Homo sapiens: one gene and its partners. The protein of the gene in region 1 interacts with the protein of each later gene in a pairwise test. Each region holds a gene or a part of one and is shown on either strand. Other genes may lie near its edges. The genes, in order: NEK6, GOLGA6L2, ZNF343, PTPN21, KIAA1328, UBXN11 and SAXO5.

Region 1 (3,500 bases):
AGGGGGACCTGTCTGTGCCCCAGCAGCCCCCAGCGGTCCTGGTGACCATGCAGGGAGACGCAAACATTCTCCCCACGTGTGTTTGGTCAGTTAGTGCAGGAAGATGCCTTTTTTAAGCCCCAGGGTTTTCTCATCTGTTCAGAATAGTGACCCAGAAGGGAATCAGCTGTGGCCAGAGGAGCCCAGCTGGGGCTTCCCACACCCCCTGATCACCTCCCAGCCCTTGCGGGAGAAGCTGACTGAGCCGGTTGCTTGGAGCAGGGGGCGTGTCTGTGGCACAGGGCGGTCATCTTCCCACTGCTGTGAGTGTCCCGTTCACGGGCAGCACCCTTGGTCCATCCCTCCTAGGGGGTGGACATTTGCACTGTTCCTAGTTTCTGGCTTTTAAACTGGCGGTTTTGAGGCTGTGGGGACCAGGTGCCTGCCAGGGAGGAGGTGACATTGTAGCTGGACCATAAAGGGAGACCAGATGCTGTTGGGACAGGGAAGGGGAGGGAGCAGCGTTCCAGGAAACAGTGGGTGAGCCTCGGTGTGCGGCTGAGCTTGGCTTTGCCACAGACCAGGGTCCTTGCAGGAGTGGCATGAAAAGCGGGCAGGGCCTTGAACTCTGAGCTCAGTGGGCTGGACACCACCCTATGGGTCGGGGGGTGCTGAAGGGCTGGACTCCGGAAGAGACTTGGTCAGATGTGTTTTGGGGACAGGTGAAGCAATGGCAAGCTTCAGTATCCACACACTGGGTATGTAACCAAATGTGAAACTTGGAATGCTGTACGATGGGGGATTTTTCATTTAGTGAGAACAAAGGAACCAAGAAAGCCCCCGCTTCCCCACCAGTGGAACACAGGAGCAGGGTCTCCTGTGCGTTACTACAAGGCTGTCTGGGTTTCACCACGCCCATCTGTGGGAACATTTCCCAGAGGCCCATGGAGTGGGCGAGGGCCCCTGCTTTCTCAGGGCTATTTCCTGGCTCTTTGAGGTGTGTTTGCAGTGGAAGGTGCCCCCAGGCCCACCCCCTGTGTGCTGTGCCCACCAGCATCCGCTTCCCCAGGAGGGGGCTGGGCCCCAGGAGCTGCCCGCCGCCTCCTTGAACACCGCCCCATTCCAGCTCATTTCCACCCCACTCCATGGCTCAAGCCAGGACGTCTCCTATCCCCAGACCCCCGAGTGCCTGCGGCAAGCGGGGTGTGAGAGACAGCAGCATTGTCTGGGCGGAGGCACTTTCTGGAAGTCACAGTGTCTTGTGGAAAGTGTCACTGTTCATACAGGTTCCAGAGAGACTCTCAGCGCGTCACACACACTTAGGAGAAATGTACGAGCCTAGAGACCAGCGACTCCCAGCAGCTGATGGAGCCAGCGGGGCTGGCGGGGAGGGGGTTGTTTTGAAACTCTTGTCCCCACCTGGCCAGGCCTCAGGAGCTCTTCCTTTAGCTCCAAAGGGAAGATGTGTAGGGACCCACCCCCCAGGGAGTATGGGACGTTCCACTCATGCCCTTGACAGCCCCAAGCATCCAGCCATCCTTCCCTTTAGCAGAGGAAGAATCAGAAATCCAGGCGCTCGAGAGATTTTTCCGAGGTCACATGGCAGCAGGCCTCTCCTTCAGAACCCACGCTGCTTCCAGGAAACGAGGGCCGGGGGCCTCGGCAGATACCGTTGGAGTCCCCCTTTGGGGACCCGGGCCACTGACTCTCCGTTGCTGGAAGGAAGCCTCGTCTTTCCTTGTCCCCTCAAACATTTACTTCCCTTGTGAAAAACCAAGTGTTTCGGTCAGTTTGGGACTGTTTACCTGTGTGGTTGAAGGGCTTCGAAAAGACCAGGAAATTCAAGGGAAGCTGTCAAAGAGAAGAGTTAGAACCGCTGCGTCCTGTCCCCCGTCAGTCAGCACCGAGCCTTTCTCTGTCCCACTGCAGAAAAAAGACTGTGGCGCTCCGTCAGAGAGGGTTAGGATCGCATCATTAGGAATGGGCAGAGATGCGTCTCATCCGACAGTATGATTTTATTGACTTGGACTGGTGCACTTATTATATTAATGAGAAGGAATTGGAACTTGGGAGAAGGCCGCCCTCATAAGCCGGGCTCTTCCCAAGCCCTCCGAGCGCCGACCAGGCCACATGATGGGTGGAAGGAGCCCTCCTGGGGCCTGTCCCCACTCCGGGCTCTGTGCCCGGCATCCAGGAGAGATGCCCAATGAGCTGAGGCCTGCACGGAGCTGAGCAAGTCCCTGCCAGCAGGACAAGCTCCCAGAACCAAGGGCCTGCACCCACCAGGTTCTAGAATGGTGACAGTGCCAAGCTAAAGCCCAGGACCTGTATCTCCAAGACCCAGGGGAAAGACCCCTTCCACCAAGAGGTTCTGCAAACAGCTAAGTCTTGCACACACGTTTGGTTGGGCAAGAGATTGAACTAATTACCATTGCATCGTGACTCAGGAGGGGCACAGGGGCCAGGGACACTTCACGCCCTGTGCGTGGGGATGAATTATGCATCTGCCGCATCTCATGTGCACCTACTATGTGGGGATGCTGTGGTGGCAGCCACGTTGCCCCAGCAACCACCTCATCTCCTAAGGCTGCTGACCCAAGAGCTGGGCTTATGCAAATCTGGTCTCCTCCCACTTCCCCCCTCCCTGGGCCCCCTCCCCGCCTCTGTATTTGCTAACACGAGGCTGGCATGAAAGGGCATTAGTCAGTGCCATGGTCGGGCTGACAGGTGCGGTACCCAGCGGTGGCAGAGTGGCTGCCTCGGTGTCAGAAATAGGAGCCGTAATTAGAGCGCGGAACAGAATGAGCGTCAGACGAATTACCAGGCAGCAGATCATATTTGTCAGGAAGGATTGCATACATAAAAATTAAGTGACAGTACACGCCGGCGTAATGCAGGAAAAATGAAAGATTTGCCTATACACAGCTCACAAGCTACAAGCAAGTGTCTCGCTCCGAGCAACGGCAGCAGCTGCAAGACAAATCACGGGGCTGGGAGAGCGGGCGGGCAGGCCTGGCTCCTCGGCTGTAGTGACAGGACAGTCTCGGTGACAGGCAGCCACGGGTGACAGGGCAGGAAGGGCGGCTGGTCACACCCAGGCCCATGCAGGGCCCGTGCTGCCTCTTGGGGGCTGGGAGAGCAAGTCTAGTTGGGGGTGACCCCATCAGGTACTCGAGGTCACGGCCCTGCTGGGTCTCCCAGGGCTTAGCCTGGCGCTGAGGCGCAAACCCCTTCCTTCTTCTTCCTTGAGCAAACTGCCTGGCCCTGGGCTGTGTGCTGGGGATATGCGATTATGCAGCTTTCGAGGGGACAGACACAGTCCATGCCAGGTGGCATGGTGAGGGGACAGGTGGGACTGCCTCTTGGGGCCCACTGTGGGCAGGCAGGGCAGGCGTGGGGCTCTGTGATTCTATACAGAGCCCCAGGGAGCCCAGGGTGGCTCCACCCCTCCCAGAGCCGCCCTCACTTCGTTACTCTGTAGCCACTGAACTCACTGAAAAGATGAGTTAAAGACGGAGAAA
Region 2 (2,853 bases), on another chromosome or scaffold:
TTTTCAACTTTCACTAAAGGCAGAGTAGCTTGTTATAGATTAGCTTCCCCACAAGAACAGTTAGAGAAACTGGACAAAAATGTGCCCCCCCATCAAAAACAATTGTTTGAAGGTAATGGGAGACTTCAGCCAGAACTTGAGTGACCAGGCCTGGGAGGTGAGCCTGACAGTCTGTAGTGCTTTCCCACATTTGGTGATTGGTCAACAGTAGAGGGCTAAGAGGCTAAGAAACTGAGTATTATGAAGTGGTAGTTAACAGGCTGGAAAGCCTAGCTGAATGTTTGGCACTCTCACAGGGCTGAATGAGAATTTGGGTCCCAGGAAGGAGATGGGACCTTGGTGGCAACTCTGGAAGGGCCACCCCTAGGAGTCCAAATGAATAAAAAATAGACCAGCCGTCACAAACTAAAACCTGCTTTGAACTAGCTTAGTCCCAAACTAGATGAAGGCAATCTGCTCTTACTCCAATTGTGTGCCATAAAGTCAAAGTCAATACTCTCTGGAGGCACATAAAAGTTTACTAGGAATGCCATAAAACAAAACAAGACTAAATGAGAAAGACCAAGAAGAAAAACAATAGAAACATACATAGATATCAGAGTCCTCAGGTAGAAACTTTTTTTTTTTTTTTGAGATGGAATCTCGCTCTGTCATCCAGGCTGGAATGCGGTGGTGTGATCTTGGCTCACTGCAGCCTCCTGAGTAGCTGTGATTACAGGCGTGCACAACCACGCCCGGCTAACTTGTATTTTTAGTAGAGACGGGGTTTCATCATGTTGGCCAGGCTGGTCTTGAACTCCTGACCTCAGGTGATCCACCCCCTCTAGGTCTCCCAAAGTGCTGCGGTTGTAGGTTTCGGCCACAAGGCCTGGCTAGTATTTTACCACAATTTAAAGTAAATTTTCTTTTCTTTTTTTTTTTTTTTTTCAAGTTTGTGCTCAGACTATATTCACACAGTGACATGGCGGCTTATGCTTCTGTAGGCCTTGTTGACAGTGCCAACTTTTAGATATTGATGATCTTCATCTTTCTCTTGTCTCCTCGGTAGAAGAATGGGATGCAGGAGGTACTGCCTAATCCTGGGCACTGCTGGGCGTTCTTCATCCCACAAAACAGCTGCATGATCTCCTGTGCAGTGGGGTTGTCCTGCGGAGAACCCTCCCCAGCCTCTCCTCCTGCAGGCTCCACACTGCCAGTGTGGCTCATATTACAAAGAACTTTGGAGGGAGGGAGGCAGGGCTCTGAGCACCGCTCCTCGTGCTCTGGCAGCCTCTCCTGCATCTTCTCTTTCTGATCTCGTATCCTCTCCTCCTTCTCTCGCATCTCCTCCTGCCCCCACATCTTCTCCTCCTGCCCCCACATCTTCTCCTCCTGGCCCCACATCTTCTCCTCCTGGCCCCGCATCTTCTCCTCCTGCTCCCGCATCTTCTCCTCCTGGCCCTGCATCTTCTCCTCCTGCTCCCGCATCTTCTCCTCCTGGCCCTGCATCTTCTCCTCCTGCTCCCGCATCTTCTCCTCCTGCTCCCGCATCTTCTCCTCCTGCTCCCACATCTTCTCCTCCTGCTCCTGCATCTTCTCTTCCTGCTCCCACATCATCTCCTCCTGCTCCTGCATCTTCTCTTGCTGCTCCTGCATCTTCTCCTCCTGCGTCTTCTTCTTCTCCCGCATCTTCTCCACCTGCTGCCACATCTTCTGCTCCCGCATTCTCTCCTCCTTCTCCCGCAGCCTCTCGTCCTGCTCCCACATCCTCTCCTTCTGGTCCCACATCTTCTGCTCCTGATCTCCTGCTCCTGCATCTTCTCGTGTTCCCACAGCTTCTCCTTCTGTTCCGGCAGCCTCTGCTGCTCCCACATCTTCTTCTTCCTGCTCCCACATCTTCTCCTCCTGCTCCCACATCTTCTCCTCCTGCTCCTGCATCTTCTCTTCCTGCTCCCACATCTTCTCCTCCTGCTCCCGCATCTTCTCTTCCTGCTCCTGCATCTTCTCCTCCTGCTCCCGCATCATCTCCTCCTCCTCCCGCATCTTCTTCTCCCGCTCCCGCATCCTCTCCTCCTCTCGCATCTTCTCCTCCTGGTCCCATGTCTTCTTCTCCTGCTCCTGCGTCTTCTTCTCCTCCCGCATCTTCTCCTCCTGCTGCCACATCTTCTTCTGCTCCCGCATTCTCTCCTCCTTCTCCCGCAGCCTCTCGTCCTGCTCCCACATCCTCTCCTCCTGGTCCCACATCTTCTGCTCCTGATCCCGCATCTTCTCCTCCTGCTCCCACATCTGCTTCTCCTGCTCCTGCAGCCTCTCCTCCTGTCTCCACATCTTCCTGCTCCCGCATCTTCTCCTGCCGCCACATCTTCTTCTCCTGCCCCCACATCTCCTCCTGGTCCCGTATCTTCTCCTCCTGCTCCCATATCTTCTCCTCCTGCTCCTGCATCTTCTCCTGTTCCCACAGCTTCTCCTTCTGTTCCGGCAGCCTCTGCTGCTGCCACTCCTTCTCTTCCTGCTCCCACATATTCTCCTCCTGCTTCTGCATCTTCTCCTCCTGCTCCCGCATCGTCTCCTCCTCTTCCCGCATCTTCTTCTCCCGCTCCCGTATCCTCTCCTCCTCTTGCATCTTCTCCTCCTGGTCCCGCGTCTTCTTCTCCTGCTCCTGCATCTTCTTCTCCTCCCGCATCTTCTCCACCTGCTCCCACATCTTCTCCTGCTCCCGCATCCTCTCCTCCTTCTCCCGTAGCCTCTCGTCCTGCTCCCACATCCTCTCCTCTTGGTCCCGCATCTTCTGCTCCTGCTCCCGCATCTGCTTCTCCTGCTCCCACAGCCTCTCCTCCTGTCTCCACATCTTCTCTTCCTGCTCCCGCATCTTCT
Region 3 (3,500 bases), on another chromosome or scaffold:
GGCAAGTTACAAGGTCAAGCCTGATGTCTGGGACAGGGAAGTACCATCCTTTTATAGGGCAACAAATAATTGGGAACGATGATAAAATCTACCACAAAGGCCTCTTTTATTCTAATCACTAGAATTATATTAGCAAAAAGACTGAGAAGCATTTCATCTTACAAGAAGCTTCACAGTTTAGTAAAGACAGTCACGTAAATAGAGAAATTGCAATATGGTATGATGGCCAGGTTGGACAGAAGAGGGAGTGGTCATCTCTACCTATGGTGTTGAGGGATGAATTACAAGAGCTGCTTAGAGACCCCAGCTAGTCTCAGAAGGGTACTAGGCAACAATAGGCCTGTAGCCATTTGGGCTGAAATCCTGGACAGCGTCTGAGGAGCTTTTGAAGGTGGCATAGCTCCTAATACCACCTGCCTTCTTTGGGACCACATCAGTGTAGGACTTTGACTTGGGCCCATCAGGATACACAAATGCACATCTGTGGTAAGGTCATGTGGTAGACATGCATAGCAATGGAAGCTAGGAGGTTATCTCTTCAGAGTAATTGTGAGAACTGGAGCTCTCCCTTAACTAAGAAGGACTGAGTTTTGATCTCCTAAACTCCTCACAATACAGGGACATAGGGATTTTTTTTTTTTTTCTTGAGACAGGGTCTTACTCCTGCCGTCCAGGCTAGAGTGCAATGGCATGATCTCAGCTCACTGCAGCCTCGACTTCCCGAGGTCAGGTGATCCTCCCACCTCAGCCTGCTGAGTAGCTGGGACTACAGGCGCACACCACCATGCCCAGCTGATTTTTGTATTTTTTGTAGAGACGGCATTTCGCTATGTTGCCCAGACTGGTCTTGAGCTCCTGAGCTTAAGTGATTAGCTTGCCGTGGCCTCCCAAAGTACTGAGATTACAGGTGTGAACCACTGTGCCCATCCAAGACACAAGGAACTGAATATAGATGGAACCTTGGGTTGGGGCAGGGGAATCAGAAGCTGAGTTCTGCACGCCCCAGTTGGTCTACAGGAAACAGTCAGAGGCTCTTTCTCCACAGGCATTATGCTATATTCTGTCTTCTCTCTGACTCAGGCTTCAGGTAGTAGCAGAGACTGATCCAAAACATAGAGTTTGAATCTGAGGTGCAGAGGCAGAAGAAGTAAAGTTTGAGAGCTAAGGGAGAGTGGCAGAACACAAGCAGGAGGGCCTAGAAATGAAGGTAGAGTGAATGAAGGTAGAAAATCCAGGGATCCCATGTAGATGGAGACTCCGTGTTTGTTGAATGAGGAGGGTGTGAGAGGACAGGATCCCTGTTGAAGAGGCATAGGCCTAGGGCCCACAATAAAAGCCCCAGCAATAGCAAATTGCTTCTTCATCCCACAGGTCCTGGCTGCAGGGAAACAAGCTGGGCTTTTTATAATTAAGGTTGGAAGAAGTCACCACAGGCAGCAGAACTCCATCTTGAGATGAAATAACATCTACCTGGACCTCTGGCAGAATTTCAAGGCACACACTGGGCTGACTCTGGCGCCATGATGTTGCCTTATCCTTCAGCACTGGGAGATCAATACTGGGAAGAGATTTTGCTTCCAAAGAATGGGGAAAATGTAGAGACTATGAAGAAATTGACCCAAAATCATAAAGCGAAAGGTGAGAATTGTTGAGGGAGCCGGAGGGATGAAGAGGAAGCCAAGGCTCCAGGTTCACCTGAAAATGCTTCAGAGGTCACCTCTGAGTTAAGTGACTACTTCCTTCATCCTAAGGCTCAGAAGAGCTGCTCAGGGAGCGTCATGGTGGGGGGTGGGGGGTGGGGGGGTCTGGTTTCTCATAGCTTCTTTTTCTTTCCCTAGGCTTGCCTTCTAATGATACTGACTGCCCCCAGAAAAAGGAGGGAAAGGCCCAAATAGTGGTGAGTTGGGGTTACATTTTTTTTTTTTCCTGAAGTGCTGGCTCATTTTCCAGAGAATAGACATATATTCTCTTTCTTGGGAAAGGAAAAGGCGGTCAACATCTGGGTAGATGAGTGAAGCATTAGGCTTTCTTGAAAAAAGTTGTCAAAGCACATAGCAAAGACAGGGATTTTACAGATCCCATTTAGTAACCTGAGCTTTTAAAAAATGCTCATTCCAGACCCCATCTGTTCACTCCCATTTTTCTCTGTAATCCAAGTTTTCTTCCATTCTCTCCTCTAAATCTTTACCACTCCCTACTGCCCAGCACAAGCCCCAAGTCCATGATGCTTTTGTTCCTTCTGCAGCCCATTCTCTGCTGTTTCATCTCTGAATTCCTTCATTATGAATCCTCAAAGTCACTGTCTTAAACACAGCCTGAGGTTTACAAATTAATTCACAAATCATTTCTCCGGTGAAATCATATATGTCAAGGGCCTAGAATGTGTTCTGTGCTCAGTTATGCTCCTCACAGGTTTTAACAGAAAGCCAGGCAGACAGTAGTGCTCAGAAGAACTTCATATGGAGAACCATATATTCTGACGAATTACATCAACTTGCATATCCAGGCTCTCCAGGGTCACCAGCTGTGCTCCACACACAGGGAAGATTGATGGTGGCTTGCTATACATTAATTTACTGGTTGTTTGTAGGTACCAGTTACATTCAGGGATGTGACTGTGATCTTCACAGAAGCAGAATGGAAGAGACTGAGTCCAGAGCAGAGGAATCTATACAAAGAAGTGATGCTGGAGAATTACAGGAATCTTCTCTCATTGGGTAAGGCTGTGTTCTTTCCTTTCCTTCATTAATTCAGTAGAGATTTACTGATCACCTAATATGTACCACAAAAAAATGTTCTAGATACTTACAACACATTAGTAAACAAAATCGTAATCCCTGCCTCCATGGGGCTTACTTTCTAGTGTAAGGAGACAGACAACAAACAAAAAGCCTCATATACAGGGATATTATAATATGGTATGTTAAAAGGTGATAAGTGCAACATAGTAAAAAATAATGAAATAAGGCAGGATAAAGGGGTATTGGGTGTGATAGGGTGGCTGGCTGAAGTTTAAAACTGGGTATTTGAAATCAGTGAAGAAGTAATATTTGTCTAAAGACATAATGTGGTGAGGAGGTTAGAACTGTAGGTATCTAGTGTAAGAGCATTTCAGGTGAAGGGAATTATTGACACGAAGACCTTAATGAAGGGATGTACCTGCCCAGTATATGAAGCTGCAAGGAGGCAAGCAAGGCTGGGGGCATGGTTTGCAAGGGGGAGAGATGCAGCTCTGTGACATAAGTTAAAATTAAGAGTCAAGTTTATTGTGGTTTGGGGGTTTCATAAACTATGTTTTTTTCTTTTTCATTTGTTTACAAACCTAAACGAGGTCAGGAGATCGAGACCATCCTGGCCAACATAGTGAAATCCCATCTCTACTAAAAATACAAAAATTAGCTGAGCATGGTGGCATGTGCCTGTAATCTCAGCTACTTGGGAGCCTGAGGCAGGAGAATCACTTGAACCAGGGAGTCAGAGGTTGCAGTGAGCCGAGATTG
Region 4 (3,500 bases), on another chromosome or scaffold:
AAAGTAAAACTGGACCCCCTATCTCTCACCATAAACATTACCCCAGTTTAATGGCATTATACTGGTTCCAGGAAAAAAGCACTTCTTCAAAGAAAAAAAATGATACTTAAAAATTATTATAAAGAGTATGTAAAGAGAACAGATGGCACCTTGGTAAGTTGAAAGCTTTTGTGAACACCATCAAAAAGCCCAGACACTTTTGTTACATAAAAATGCATGTCAGTATGTGATGAGGAAAAACTAGCAATTCAGTGGCTCCCAGAATTTATGAGCTAAAAAGAGGTCTTCAGATTTAGAAGGACAAAGTTCTAAAGCCAGGCAACACAAGGTCAAGGCTGTAGGGAGCCATGATCATACCACTGCACTCCACCTGTCTGGGCGACAGAGCAAGACTCTATCTCAAAAAAGGCAAAAGAAAAAAAAAAAAGCCGGGCAAATAAGTGCGCCCTGAGTCCTGGTAACAGTGTTGGGGGCAGAGTGGTTTCGCACATGGAGAGTAGACATGACTTTGGCTCTGTCTGATAGACGCTTTTTATCTAGCACTGGTATGTGGATTTCCCAGCTTGCAGTACAGTTTGTCACAAATGTTTAAAACTAGGGTGTTTATCTAAAACAATACAATAAAAATAAATTTTAAAATATCTGAATTCTAAACAGACATGAATACAATTCTTACCATTCTTGTAACTTAACTGAAACTGCATGTGCTGTTGATTACTTGAGGCGTTCCTCTCACCTTAATATGTGATGCGTTGATGTAACCAGTGTTGTTTTCTTTAGTTGGGACCAACTCCACTCTCACATCATCATAAGGAAGAACATCTTGGAATCGATTTCTTTCTGCATTTTCAGGGAGTCGTGCTGTTGAGCACTCCCCATCAACTAGCCGTTTCTTAAGAATTCTTTCATATTCTGTGAATACCATTCCTTGTTCTAATCGTTGTTCCAGAATTTTACACTATAAAACAGAATATGTGTAATAACATGAATACAGCCACACGTCGTGGCTACCTTTTGACTGTATATTTGAAATCTTGTTTTCTGCTTCAAATCTAGCACTGTATAATATTGAAAATTCTAGGTTGGGCACGGTGTCTCATGCCTGTAATCCCTGCACTTTGGGAGGCCAAGGAGGGAGGATCACTTGAGCCTAGGAGTTCAGGACCAGCCTGAGAAACACAGTGAGACCCCGTCTCTGCAAAAAATTAAAAAACGAGCCAGGTGTGGTGGTGCATGCCTGTGGTCCCATCTACTTGGGAGGATGAGGCAGGAGGATTGCTTGAGCCCAGGAGGTTGAGGCTGCAGTGAACCATGAGAACCTATCTCAAAAAAACCAAACCAAAACCAAAACAGAAACAAAATTCTAGGTGAAAATGAAGTTAAAATTTTAAAAAGCCACAACAACAAGAGTTAAAAGAACAAAAGACAATCATTTTGGTGAGAAATATAATGCAAACTTTTGTTTAAAGTTGAAAATTGGCCTAAAGAAATTTGTTGAATTCATTTTCTCTAGATCTGTGGTCAATTTTGTGACCCCTAATAGATGGAATTCTCCTGGGGAACAGTAAGTAAATCTAGGGGACGGATAATGAGTTCCAACAGCTATGAACAAATGTTTCCATTTTATGTCATACGATATATAAAAGACTAAAGCAGTAGGAAATATTCGAAACTACCTCCAGGATCCCGTTGTAAAGCAAATGTATGCCTATCTGATTTTGATGTAATAAAACCTCATAGAAAATACACCTCAGGCACAAAGGAAGTTTTGAAAAATTGAGAAACTACTCTCGAGATAAACTTTCAGTATAATAAAAGTCAATGTCTGCTGCTTTTCCCCTGTATGCTCCTGTATTTTTGTAGATTTCTTCTCACTTTAAGGCCATCAAAATCAAGACTGCTCCAAAAGGCCAGGAGAAGGTAAAAAAGAACACTGAGAAACAAACAAACAAAAAATCAGCATTCGAACCTGAAATTATCTATTAAGACATTAGCTATACATTTGCCCCAATTTTGAGGCCCATATTACAAAATTCCTTAACACTCATTTATTATTAAATTGTGTTAGAAAATTCACCAAAATCTCATGAAGGCATTTGCGTAGTATTTACCGGTTGTTCCAGAGAAGGCACAAAGCCCTGTGTGTCCCATACATACCCTTTCATCATTCGTTGCTCTGGTAGCCACTTCCTTTCCTTCATCAGGCAGAGGCACTCGAGATAGGGAGAGTCCATTTAGGGCAGCCAGTTTAAGAGGACCAATTTTTTTTGCATCTACTCGAGTCTTTTTCATTCCCTGTAAAAGGATTTATATGTATATATGAAATATACACAAATACAACCCCTGTGAAAAGAAGTTTCAATGCACTGAAGACCAGGAACACACAGAGGGAGTGTTCTCCTTTGCCAATAAACCCAGAAAGATTACACTCCTTCACACACCACTTGTTTAACAAACATTAGTAGGAAGACATTCCTTTCAAGGCCAAAGCCCTGATAAAGTCTTCCAGATAGAAGGTTTTGAAACACTATTGGTTACAAAGTTCTGTTGTAATGAAAGGTGAGGCTCCAGGCAGACTGCATTCCTTTTAAAACAAGACAGACGTAACAAATCAGCTGAAGTCCAAAAAAAAAAAAAAAAAAAAAAAACAAAAGCTTTAAATGCAATCAATTGACTATAGTAAGCTTTTATAAATTTTTTTTTTGAGGGTCTCACTCTGTCACCCAGGCTGGATGGAATGCAGGGGCACCATCATAGCTCACTGCAGCCTCAACCTCCAGTCTCAAGCAATCCCACCTGAACCTCCCGAGTACCTGGGACTACCAGCACATGCCACCATGCCCAACTAATCTTTGTGTGTTTTGTAGAGATGGGGTCTCACTATGTTGCCCAGGCTGGTCTCAAACAACTGAACTTAAGCAGTGTTGGCCTCCCAAAGTGCTTGAGATTACAGGCGTGTGCCACCATGCCCGGACAGCTTTTTATAATTTTTAAAATATATAAATTCTTTAAGTCATTCTGAAAAATTAAATGGTTTCTGCAGCAGCCCCCTTTGTGTGTTAAGCCCCCTCCTCATATGCTACTCTGCATTCTAGTGCAGACTTAGATGACCCGGGTTAGATCACGCTACCTCTCAGAACGGCTACGTTTTTAAACAAGGAAAATAAAACAGGGCTAAAATCTCCATCATGACACCAGGAGGATAGGACAGAAGAGAAAGCATCAACAAAATCTTGTCTCCTGAAATCAAGTGTTTCCTAAAATTATTATTAGAGCATGATTTTCCTCTCTGAGAATAGTAAGCATAAGAACACTAAGTTGACCAGGTGCGGGGGATCACGCCTGTAATCCTAGCACTTTGGGAGGCCGAGGTCAGGAGATTGAGACCATCCTGGCCAATATGGTGAAACCCCGTCTCTACTAAAAATACAAAAATTAGCTGGGCGTGGTGGCACATGCCTGTAATCCCAGCTACTCGGGAGGCTGAGGCAGGAGAAAGG
Region 5 (3,500 bases), on another chromosome or scaffold:
CATTTCCCAATTTGATGAAAACTATAAACCCACAGTCCCAAAAAGCTCAACAAACCTCAAACAAAAGAGATACTTTAAAAATTACTCCAAGGTAGGATGGGCATGGTGGCTCACACCTGTAATCCCAGCACTTTGGGAGGCCGAGGCGGGCAGATAATGAGGTCAGGAGTTCGAGACCAGCCTGACCAACATGGTGAAACCCCATCTCTACTAAAAATACAAAAATTAGCCGGGTGTGGCGGTGCACGCCCGTAATCCCAGCTACTCAGGAGGCTGAGGTAGGAGAATCACTTGAACCTGGGAAGCGGAGGTTGCAGTAAACCAAGATCGTGCCACTGCACTCTAGCCTGGGCGACACAGCAACTCTGCACCTCAAAAAAAAAAATTACTCCAGGGTATACTATAACCAAATTGCTCAAAACCAGTGATAAGAAGAAAATCTTAAAAGCAGCCATATTTAAACACATACACACAGAAAAATAAGGAGGAATAAAAATGACAGCCAACTTCTTAAAAACAATACAAGCCAGGCAACAGTGCAGCAACATCTTTAAAGCACTGAATGAATAAAACTATCAACTCAGAATTTTATAACCAGCAAAAATATCTTTTGAAAAGGAAAGAGAAATAAAGACTTTTCAGACATACGTGAGCTGAAAAAATTCTTTCCTAGCATACCTGAACTAATGTTAAAGGAAGTCTTTTAGGAAATCTGGATACACGTGAAAGAATGAAAACACCAGAAATGGTAACTACATGAGTAGATTTAAAAGACTTCTGTTGCATTTGTAAAATTTCTTTAAAAGGCAATTAAAATAAAATGCATCCAAAATGGAATAAAGGCATCCAATAAGAATATGTGAACTATCTCTATTCACAGACAACTTCATCTTATATAGAGAAAATGGTAAGGAATTCACAAAAGAACTATTAGATTAGAAATAGTTTGATAAAGTTGCAGGATACAAGATCAATTCACAAATCAACTGAATTTCTATATACTAGCAATAAACAATCCAACAGTGAAATTCAGAAACAACTGTGTTTCTAATAACATCAAAAAGTATAAAACATTTGCTGATTCTATAATGCCTATGGAAACACTGGGACCCAAAATAGCCAAAACAATCTTGAAAAAGAAGAAGTTGGAGGACTTATACTTCCTAATTCCAAAAATAAAAATATAAATCAATGGAACAGAATACAGAGAGTCCAAAAATAAACCCTTACACTTATGGTCAACAGATATTTGACAAGGGTGCCAAGAAATTCAAAGGGGAAAGGACAGTTTTTTTAACAAATGGTGCTGGGACAACTGGATATCTACATGCAAAGGAATAAAGTTAAACTACCACCTCACCCCATATACAAAAATTAACTCAAAATGGAATGAGAACTAAATGTAGGAGTAAAACCTTTAAAATTCTTAGAAAAAAAATAGGCACAAATATTTGTGACCTTGGATTAGGCAACAATTTCTCAGATATGACACCAAAGCAAAGGAGACAGAAGAAAACACTAGATAAACTGAACTTCATCAAAATTTTAAACTTCTGTGCTTCAAAGAACACCAATAAAAAAGTGAAAAGGCAATGCATAGAATGAGAAAAAATATTAGCAAATAATGTATCTGATAAGGGACTTGTAAATGGAATTTAGAAAGAACTCATAACTTAACAGTACTAAGACAAATAACTCAGTTAAAAAAGGATATGACTAGATATTTGTCTGACGAAGATACACAAATAGCCAAGAAGCACATAAAAACATGCTCATCATCATTTAGTCATTAAGGAAATGCAAATCAAAATCACATTGAATTACCACTTCACACCCACTAGGGTGGCCATCCTCAAAAAAGATGGACATAAATGTTGGCAAGAATGTGGAGAAATCTGAATCCTCATACATTGCTAGTCGAATGTAACATGGTGTAACCACTTTAAAAAACAGTTTGGAATTTTGTCAAAAGGTTAAACATAAAACTACACGACACAGCAATTCACTTATAGGTATATACACAAGAGAACTGAAAATATATGTCTACACAAAAACTTGTATATGAATGATCATGGAAGAATTATTCATAATAGCTAGAAAGTTGAACATGTCCATTGACTGATAAATGGATAAACAAAATGTATATTCAGACATAAAAAGGAATGAAGTAATGATACAGAATAGATGAACCTTGAAATCATTATGCTAAATCAAAGAAGCCAGTCACAAAAGGCCACATATTATGTGATTTCCTTTTATATGCAACATCAATAACAAGCAAATCTATAGAGACTGAAAGCAGATTAGTGTTTGCTAGGGGCTGAGATGACTGGGGAATGAGAAGTGCCTAATTGGTATGGGGTTTCTTTCTAGAGTGATAAAAATGTTTCGAAACTAGATTGTGGTGATGGATCCACAACTCTGTGAATATAAACACATACAAAATCAAAATAATAAACTGTACACTTTAAAAAGGTGAATTTTATATGCAAATTATATCTCAATTTGAAAAAAAAGAGAGTTGACTAAAGCAAATGTAATATGTATTTTGGGGTCTGTGCACATAAGTAAAATGTATGACAACAATATCAAAAAAGTCAGGAGGTGAGAAATAAAGTACAGTGTTGAAAGGTCCTTAAACTATAGGTAATGTGGGAAAATATCACTTGATAATAGGCTATGATAAATGAAAGATGTATACTATAATCTCTAAAGAAGCCACTGAAATAATCCAATCAAAAGTTATAGCCAATAGGACAAAAATATGAACTTAATCTAAAAGAAGGCTATTGTTCAATGTAAAACAAATCAACCATTATGTGAAAAAACATTTTTTAACTTTTTTTGATAAGAACTTGCAAATTCAACTATTCACACCCCAGTGTGAAGTGGGTACACTGGTACAAGTAACGTAAAGTAGGCCTTTTGATTCAATCACAGTAAAATCCTGTAGTAATAAATGAGGCACTGGAAATATCTTTGAGAACATAATTCACAGACTGAAAAAAGTTTTCTATAAAAGGTCTGATAGTAAATGTTTTTAGCTTGTGGGCATGCAGTCTCTGTAGCAACCCTGCTATTGTAACACAAAAGCAACCATAGACAATTATGTAAAACAATGAGCACAGCTGTATTCCAAAAAACCTTTATTTATAAAACAGGCAGAAGGATTTGGTCCACAGGTTATAGATTCCAGAACATTCATATACAAGTTTTGTGTAGACATCCTAGTGAGTGTGAAGTGGTATTGAACAACTCTGGTTGCAGAGGGAAAATATAACAAAAATTAAAGTAAAATAAACTGGTCAGATAGGACATGTGCCAAAGGAATGCACCGATACTATTACTATGCCTAGTCATTGATTTGTCCCTCATCTTTACGAGGGTTCATCTATCAAATAAATTCACAAGAATAAAAATCAAAAAGGATGCCTAATTAAAAAGCAATTCTCATCAGTTTGATTTACCAATGCCACACAGATCAGAATGTAGTTCTTTTG
Region 6 (3,500 bases), on another chromosome or scaffold:
TTCCATTTTACCGGAGGAGGGAATTGAGGTGGAAAAAGAGACAGGAAGAGCCTGGCCTAAGGTTCTGCGGCCATTTCACCACAAAGCCAAGATCTCCTATACCCTGGCTGGGGTCAACTTTCTTTTTTATTTTATTTTTTTTGAGACAGGGTTTTGCTCTGTCATCCAGGCTGGAGTGCAGTGGTGCGATCATGGCTCACTGCAACCTCAGCCTCCCAGGCACAATCAGTCCTCCTGCCTCAGCCTCCCAAAGTGCTGGGATTACAGGCATGAGCCACCATACCCAGCCAGGTCACTTTCAGTAGTAACCATGGCAACCAGGTTCTCTCTTTGAAAGAGCTCCAGGTGTCCTCTCCCTGCTTTCCCCTGTCATCCCCTCCTCTCCCACTCCCAGCCAATATCTGTCCCTACCAAGGTAACAGATGAGGACTTGCCTATCTTATTTTACTTCTCTGCCAGCAGTGTCCTATACTGTCCACTGCTCCTTCCTTCTCAGGACCTCCACCAAGCTCTTAGGCACCAAGCTGCTGCCCTCCCATTACCCTCTGCTTCTAGGCTCTGTCTCTTAGCTGTCATCACCACCTCCTTTTTTCTCTCAGGTTTTTTTTTTGTTTTTTTTTTTTTTGGAGACTGCCTTGCTCTGTTGCCCAGCCTGGAGTGCAGCGGTGCAAATCACTACTTACTGCAGCCTCGACCTGTCAGGCTCAAGCAGTCCTCCCACTTCAGCCTCTCAAGTAGCTGGGACTACAGACACACACCACCATGCCTGGCTAATTTTTGTATTTTTAGTAGAGACAGGGTTTCTCTATGTTGCTCAGGCTGGTCTCGAACTCCTGGTCTCAAGTGATCTGCCCGCCTCGGCCTCCCAAAGTGCTGGGATTACAGGTGCGAGCCACTGCACCCAGGCCCTCAGCTTTTCAATGTGATGTTCCTCTGGCCTGGATTCTCCTCTGTGTCCACTGTGCCCCAGTGAGCTCACCTGCACTCCATGTGTAGACAGTTCCCAAATGTTTGTCAATTAAGATGCATTTAACTATAAGTCAAAGAAAACCCTTCCTCAGCCAACAAGAACATTAAGGAAGTTTTGTTATCCCACATGCAAAGAAATCCTAAAGAGGCAGCTCCAGGGGTGTTAATTCAGTGACTCCAAGACATCATCAGGGGCTCAGGTTTCTCCATCTTTCCACTGAACCTGCCTTGACATGTCAGCCTCATGTGGTTGTAGGATGATGGCCGCGGTTCCTGCTTCATACATAGAAAGGACACTGTCTAGGGGAAGAAAAGGAAAAGGCCTGCTTCTTCCTGTAGGTTTCTCTTCTTTTCCATTTTCATACTTTTTTTTTTTTTTTTTTTTTTCTGAGACAGAGTCCCTCACTCTGTTACCCAGGCTGGAGTGCAGTGGTGCGATCTTGGCTCACTGCAACCTCCGCCTCCTGGGTTCAAGCGATTCTCGAGTAGCTGGGATTACAGGCACCTGCCACCACGCCCGGCTGATTTTTGTATTTTTAGTAGAGGCAGGGTTTCACCATGTTGGCCAGGCTGGTTTTGGACTCCTGGCCTCAAGTGATCCACCTGCCTTGGCCTCCCAAAGTGCTGGGATTACAGGCATGAGCCACCGCATGCCCGGCCCTGGCTACTGTTTTCTACAGCACCCCGCATTCTGGCTTTGTCTGGCAGTTTGCCCGTGGGGTATTTGCCTCACTCCTCTATCTGCTGTTTTGCGTACCAACTGGACACTAGATTTGGAGGTTTGATTAGATCGAGGGTGAAATTCTTGGCAATGCTTCAGGGTGATGTCACCCATATGTTACACCACTTCCTTGTATATGTTGGACAAATTACTTGATCCCTTTGTGTCTCAGTTTCCTAAAACAGTTCATTTACCTCCTGGGTGTGTTTCAAGGATTACAGGGGGTTGATCTACATGAAGTGTTTAGAACAGTTCCTATGATGCCAGTGGGAGCTGCTCTCAGTACCTTCATTTCCATTCCTGGGACCCCTATCCTCCTCCCTCCCCCCCACAACTCAGCCTCGGCTCTAGGTCTGGGCTCTAAAGACTTTGTGTGCTTGGCAGTCCCTGCATCCCATGACTCGGAGCTGATGGCCTTCATGACGAGGAAGTTGTGGGACCTGGAGCAGCAGGTGAAGGCCCAGACTGATGAGATACTGTCCAAGGTGGGGCTCCAGGTGGGAGAGGGCCAGGGGCCGGTCTGAGAGGTGGAGGGACTGGGCTGGGGAGGCCAGGAGTTGGACTAGGGTGGGTGATTCTAGAACCGTCTACCACACTGACCTGCCCAGTTCGAGGACCAGGTGTGGCCTGGGCCTGATCTAGGTCCTGTGACCTGAGCCGAGAGGCTGGGGGGTCTTCCCCTCAGCTGAGCAGGACCCAGTAGACCCTGGACTGGGTGGCACAGTGGACTGCTGAGCAGAGCGCGGCACCCTCAGATGTGGGGGTCCTCAGGTGTGGGCCGCACCTCTCCCTACCTCAGAGGAACTGCGAGGGTTATCTGAGGTCCGGGAGAAGTGGCTGTGCCAAAGGGTGGCAGGGGCTTGCTGCTCCCCAGCATCCAACATAGGCAAAGCTCTGGAGCTTCCTGTCTGGGCAGGGCTCTGGGAACCACAGGCCCTGTGCTCACCCTGTGTCTTATGCTACAGGATCAGAAGATAGCGGCCCTAGAGGACCTGGTGCAGACCCTCCGGCCACACCCAGGTAGGGGGCTCTTGGAGGGCTGACCTGCGCCCCCAGTCAGGCACCTCCCCTGGGCCCAGGGCTCCTGGAAGCTTCACAATGGCTTCTGGCATCAAGAGCATCAAGCTGACTACTTGGTGGGGTCTGGACAGCTGAGCCCACAGAGGGGCTGCAGCATATCCAGGACAGTGCTGGAGTCACTCCATGCCCTCCTACATGGGACCGAGTCCCATCTGAAGTGTGGAGGAGAGGAGGCTCTGAGGGGAGTGGCAGCCTCCTAGGGCCCATCAAGGCACCGCCACGGGGTCAGAGGAGAGGCCAGAGAGGTGGGGGGCCAAGAGGCAGTTCTTGGGGGATCCCCAGAACAGCTTCTCCAGATGACCCTCAGGGCAGAGGTGACCTGGCAGTGTCTTGCTGGGGCAGCTGAAGCCTGTCCCTGTCTTTCCCTGAAGCCGAGGCAACCCTGCAGCGGCAGGAGGAACTGGAGACGATGTGTGTGCAGCTGCAGCGGCAGGTCAGGGAGATGGAGGTGAGAGAGCTGGGCCCCGGGGGATGCGGGCAGCCAGCAGTCCCCAGCTCTTCACGGCATGTTCCTCAGGAGCTGGGTCCGAGCCCACCTCTCTGGGCCTCTCCTCGTCACATCCCACCCAGGGACCCTGCCCTGCATTTCCCTACCCAGGACTGGCCCAGACTTTAAAGAGCCAGGGAGGTGTCTGGGGCTGGGGCACACCCCTGCTTTTGGGCCCTCTGAACATGCCTCTCCCCTGCTTAGCAGACCTCATGGCTCCCACTGAACTGAATTCTACAGTCC
Region 7 (4,075 bases), on another chromosome or scaffold:
CCTGGACGACAGAGCGAGACTCCGTCTCAAAACATAAAAAAAAATCTTTCATGTGGTGCCTACTGTAGGCCTGGCACACAGTAGGCACCACATAAATGATTTCTGTCCCTACTCTAGGCCTGGAGGCCAGCAGGGGTGGGGAACTAACATTAGTTCACAAAATAGACCTAGATCCCTGCCTTTGTGGAATTGATAATGGGGCGGGAGATGACAGACAATAATAAAAAATATAACAACAAAAATTGAAGAGTAGGTTAGAAGGTAATAGCTGGGTACTGTGACTCACACCTGTATCCAGGCACAGTGAGAGGTCAGAGCAAGAGGACTGCTTGAGCCCGGGAGTTCAGGACCAGCCTGGGCAATATAGTGGGACCCCGTCTCCACACACACACACACACACACACACACACACACAAATTAGACAAGTGTGGTGGGCTCAACCTCTTGGGCTCAAACGGTCCTCTCACCTCAGTCTTCTGAGCATCTGGGACTATAGGTGTGCACCACCATGCATGGCTAATTCTTTCTATTTTTTTTTTTAGAGACAGGGGTCTGGCTATGTTGCTCAGGCTGGTCTCAAACTCCTGGGCTCAAGCAACCCTTCTGCCTCAGCCTCCCAAAGTGCTGGGATTACAGGTGTTAGCCACCATGCCTGGCCAAGGGTAGGTTTTAACCACTGCTTCACAAAAGACATTGAGGCTCAGGGAGGTGGTCATTTGCTTGAGATTTGAACCCAGGGCGACTCTGATTCTAGAACTTGGAGAATTAACCACTGCATTCTACTGTATGTCTGATACAAGAACCGCGTCTTCTCACCCTCAGTCAGTTGTCAAGGCCACGGTTTTCTCCTTCTTCCCCTCTGGGGGACCCATTTTTGTTCCTCTGCCTAACTCCAGCCCTGCACCCCAGCCACTGGCCATCTCCGTTTCTGCCACACTTTTTCTCCCTTCTCTCCCCCTCCCCCGCCCCTCCCCCCTCCCCTCCGCTCCTTTCACTTCCCTACCTTCTCTCTCTTTCTTTCTTTCCTTTTCTTTTTGTGACAGAGTCTCACTCTGTCCCCCAGGCTGGAGTACAGTGGCACGATCTCAGCTCACTGCAACCTCCACCTCCTGGATTCAACTGACTCTCCTGCCTCAGCCTCCCAAGTAGCTGGGATAACAGGTACCTGCCACCATGCCCGTCTAAGTTTTGTATTTTTGGTAGAGACGGGGTTTCACCACATTGGTCAGGCTGGTCTCGAACTCCTGACCTCAAGTGATCTGTCTGCCTTGGCCTCCCAAAGTGCTGGGATGACAGGTGTGAGCCACTGTGCCCGGCCTGCCACGCACTTTCTTACTGGTTTTCCCCTGCTCTGCAGTTGTCCTAGGTCCTGCCTATTCTCAATCTCTTCCTGTCTTCACACCTTCTGAGAGTTAGCTCTCTCCTCTGACCTTCAGCTTCAGACTCCAAGCCTCCCCTGACCCTCCGCCTCTGCTCAGTCACCTGGGACTTTCTTGCCTTTGCTTAGATCACAAGTGTCTCCCATGCTCTCCTCTCTGTCTCCCTTGGAGACCAGCATTCCAAGTTCTCAGGCTCACCTCTTGCAGGAAGACCTCCCAGATCACTTCAACCCACAAAACCTGCTTACCTCTACCTATTTAGAAAACATGGATCAGACGGGTGCAGTGGCTCAGGCCTATAATCCCAGCACTTTGGGAGGCCGAGGTGGGCAGATCTCCTGAGGTCGGAGTTCAAGACCAGCCTGACCAACATGGAGAAACCCCATCTCTACTAAAAATACAAAATTAGTCAGGCGTGGTGGCGCATGCCTGTAATCCCAGCTACTCCAGAGGCTGAGGCAGGAGAATAGCTTGAACCCAGGAGGCAGAAGTCGTGGTGAGCCAAGATTGCGCCATTGCACTCCAGCCTGGGCAACAAGAGCGAAACTCTGTCTCAAAAAAAAAAAAAAAAAAAAGAAAAAAATACAAAAATTAGCTGGGCATGGTAGTATGCACCTGTCATCCCAGCTACTCAGAAGGCTGAGGCGGGAGAACCGCTTGAACCTGGGTGGCAGAGGTTGCAGTGATCCGAGACCACGCTACCGCACTCCAGCCTGGGTGACAGAGCGAAACCCCATCACAAAAATAGAAAGAAAACATGGATGAAGGGTGTGTGTGTGTGTGTGTGTGTGTGTGTGTATGTGTGTGTGTGTGTTTTAATGAAACCACAGTTTTTCAGTGTGTAAGTTTGTTGCTTTTTTTTTTTTCTCAGCTCACTGCAACCTCTTCCTCCTGGATTCAAGCGATTCTCCCACCTCAGCCTCCAGAGTAGCTGGGACTGTAGGTGTCCGCCACCACGCCCGGCCAATTTTTGTATTTTTAGTAGAGACGGGGTTTCGCCATGTTGGCCAGCCTGGTCTCGAACTCCTAGCCTCAGGTGATCCACCCTCCTCGGCCTCCCAAAATGCTGGGATTACAGGCATGAGCCACCGCGCCTGGCTGAGTTTGCTGCTTTTTGAATCATTTGCCCCCTGCAATAGTTGAGAGTTGAATATGACCTCCAAAATGGGTCATCAGAGAATCCAACAACTGAGACTACTAGCCAGGTAATCTTGGAATAAGTCATTAAGCTCCCATGAGCCTCAGTTTTCACCTCTGTACATCAGGGACGAGGACAGTGCACCTACCTCAAGGGATGGCGTGTGAATCAATGAGTTTTAGAAAATTCACTTAGCTACAGACCAGATCTTTGGGTCTCCCTCTGTCCCTGGTCTCTCAGAGGATCCTCATGTTCCTTCCCAGGCTGCATCCAAGGGTGGTCCAGCCCTGCGCATTGTGACCCCAAGAGCTTCCTTTGTGTAATGATACTGTCACAATGACCACTCAGCACCTCTAGGGGCAGCCGGGAGGAAAATTAGCAGGCAGGCTTGGTGCGAATACTGCCTCCTTAGAGCTCCAGGAACCCAGGCAAGTAATTGACTTTTTGGAGCCTCTGGGGTTTTGTTCGGTTGGTTTTGTTTTTGAGGTAAGCTCTCGCTATGTTGCCCAGGCTGGACTTGAAGTCCTGGGCTCAAGCGATCCTCTCGCCTCAGCCTCCCAAGTGGGTGGGTCCACAGGTGTGTGCCACCATGCCTGGCTAGGACTTAGGTTTTGTCATCTGCAAAAGGGGACTAATGATGGTAGCCAGTTCAGAAAGCAGTGTCAGTATTGAGGATTTGATTAAATAGGCTGCTGGTGTCCATTATTATTATCATCCTCTAAAGTTTTTCTGTCCCTCTACCTTCTACACACCCCACACAGAATGGACCCACTTCCCTGAATCACTGCACCTCTTGATATTATTCTAGGGCTCACAGATCTCCCTTTAAAGGGGCCGGTCACCCCTCCTTCCCCAGTCAAAGACCACCAGGAATGTACCTGTGATTGAACACATTCAAGCTTATTATTCATCAGAGAGAGAGAGAGAAAGAAAGAGAGAGGGAGAGAGAGCTCATACATGTCATAGGGCACTATGGCGGTCTCAGTAGGGAGGTGTTAGAAAGAACTTTTTTTCGCTATTTATTTATTTATTTATTTATTTGAGATGGAGTTTCGCTCTTGTTGCCCAGGCTGGGGTGCAGTGGCACGATCTCAGCTCATCGCAACCTCCGGCTTCAAGTGATTCTCCTGCCTCAGGCTCCCGAGTAGCTGGGATTATAGGCATGTGCCACCACACCCAGCTAATTTTGTATTTTTAGTAGAGATGGGGTTTTTCCATGTTGGTCAGGCTGGTTTCGAATTGCCGACCTCGGGTGATCCGCTCGCTTCAGTCTCCCGAAGTGCTGGGATTATAGGCGTGAGCCACCACGCCCGGCCAGAAAGCACTTATTATGGGATTTGCAATTCTGCTCGGTGTTTTGGGGGCACAGCTTAAGGAAGTAGGGGATTTGGGTGGGATGAATTTATTGGTTGGAAATTTTACTTTCTTTTTTGAGATGAGCAGATAAAAACAAATAAAAACAACACACAGGTGAGGCATGGTGGCTCACATTTGTAATCTCAGCCTCCCAAAGTAGCGTCCAGAAAAGGGCTGTTGTGGCTTGGTGTGGTGGCTCACG

The links.
Region 2: the proteins of NEK6 (region 1) and GOLGA6L2 interact in binary tests that used the Homo sapiens proteins (3 or more experiments, as listed by UniProt).
Region 3: the proteins of NEK6 (region 1) and ZNF343 interact in binary tests that used the Homo sapiens proteins (3 or more experiments, as listed by UniProt).
Region 4: the proteins of NEK6 (region 1) and PTPN21 interact in binary tests that used the Homo sapiens proteins (3 or more experiments, as listed by UniProt).
Region 5: the proteins of NEK6 (region 1) and KIAA1328 interact in binary tests that used the Homo sapiens proteins (3 or more experiments, as listed by UniProt).
Region 6: the proteins of NEK6 (region 1) and UBXN11 interact in binary tests that used the Homo sapiens proteins (3 or more experiments, as listed by UniProt).
Region 7: the proteins of NEK6 (region 1) and SAXO5 interact in binary tests that used the Homo sapiens proteins (3 or more experiments, as listed by UniProt).

What each region holds. Positions count from the first base shown.
Region 1 is NC_000009.12:124,327,449-124,330,948, forward strand, and holds part of NEK6 (serine/threonine-protein kinase Nek6), read left to right. Parts: intron 1-3,500. UniProt on the Homo sapiens protein: Protein kinase which plays an important role in mitotic cell cycle progression. Required for chromosome segregation at metaphase-anaphase transition, robust mitotic spindle formation and cytokinesis.
Region 2 is NC_000015.10:23,438,538-23,441,390, forward strand, and holds the end of GOLGA6L2 (golgin subfamily A member 6-like protein 2), read right to left. Parts: coding exon 1,208-2,853; coding exon of another isoform or gene 1,006-1,207; 3' UTR 501-1,005; downstream 1-500.
Region 3 is NC_000020.11:2,491,916-2,495,415, reverse strand, and holds part of ZNF343 (zinc finger protein 343), read left to right. Parts: exon of another isoform or gene 1-1; intron 2-1,371; 5' UTR 1,372-1,520; coding exon 1,521-1,638; exon of another isoform or gene 1,639-1,665; coding exon of another isoform or gene 1,666-1,723; intron 1,724-1,838; coding exon 1,839-1,897; intron 1,898-2,590; coding exon 2,591-2,717; intron 2,718-3,331; coding exon of another isoform or gene 3,332-3,384; exon of another isoform or gene 3,385-3,500. UniProt on the Homo sapiens protein: May be involved in transcriptional regulation.
Region 4 is NC_000014.9:88,471,508-88,475,007, forward strand, and holds part of PTPN21 (tyrosine-protein phosphatase non-receptor type 21), read right to left. Parts: intron 2,296-3,500; coding exon 2,158-2,295; intron 959-2,157; coding exon 737-958; intron 1-736.
Region 5 is NC_000018.10:36,835,627-36,839,126, reverse strand, and holds part of KIAA1328 (protein hinderin), read right to left. Parts: intron 1-3,500. UniProt on the Homo sapiens protein: Competes with SMC1 for binding to SMC3. May affect the availability of SMC3 to engage in the formation of multimeric protein complexes.
Region 6 is NC_000001.11:26,296,637-26,300,136, reverse strand, and holds part of UBXN11 (UBX domain-containing protein 11), read left to right. Parts: intron 1-2,074; coding exon 2,075-2,175; intron 2,176-2,655; coding exon 2,656-2,710; intron 2,711-3,141; coding exon 3,142-3,218; intron 3,219-3,500. UniProt on the Homo sapiens protein: May be involved in the reorganization of actin cytoskeleton mediated by RND1, RND2 and RND3. Promotes RHOA activation mediated by GNA12 and GNA13.
Region 7 is NC_000019.10:7,496,273-7,500,347, reverse strand, and holds the start of SAXO5 (stabilizer of axonemal microtubules 5), read right to left. Parts: upstream 2,801-4,075; 5' UTR 2,666-2,800; intron 1-2,665.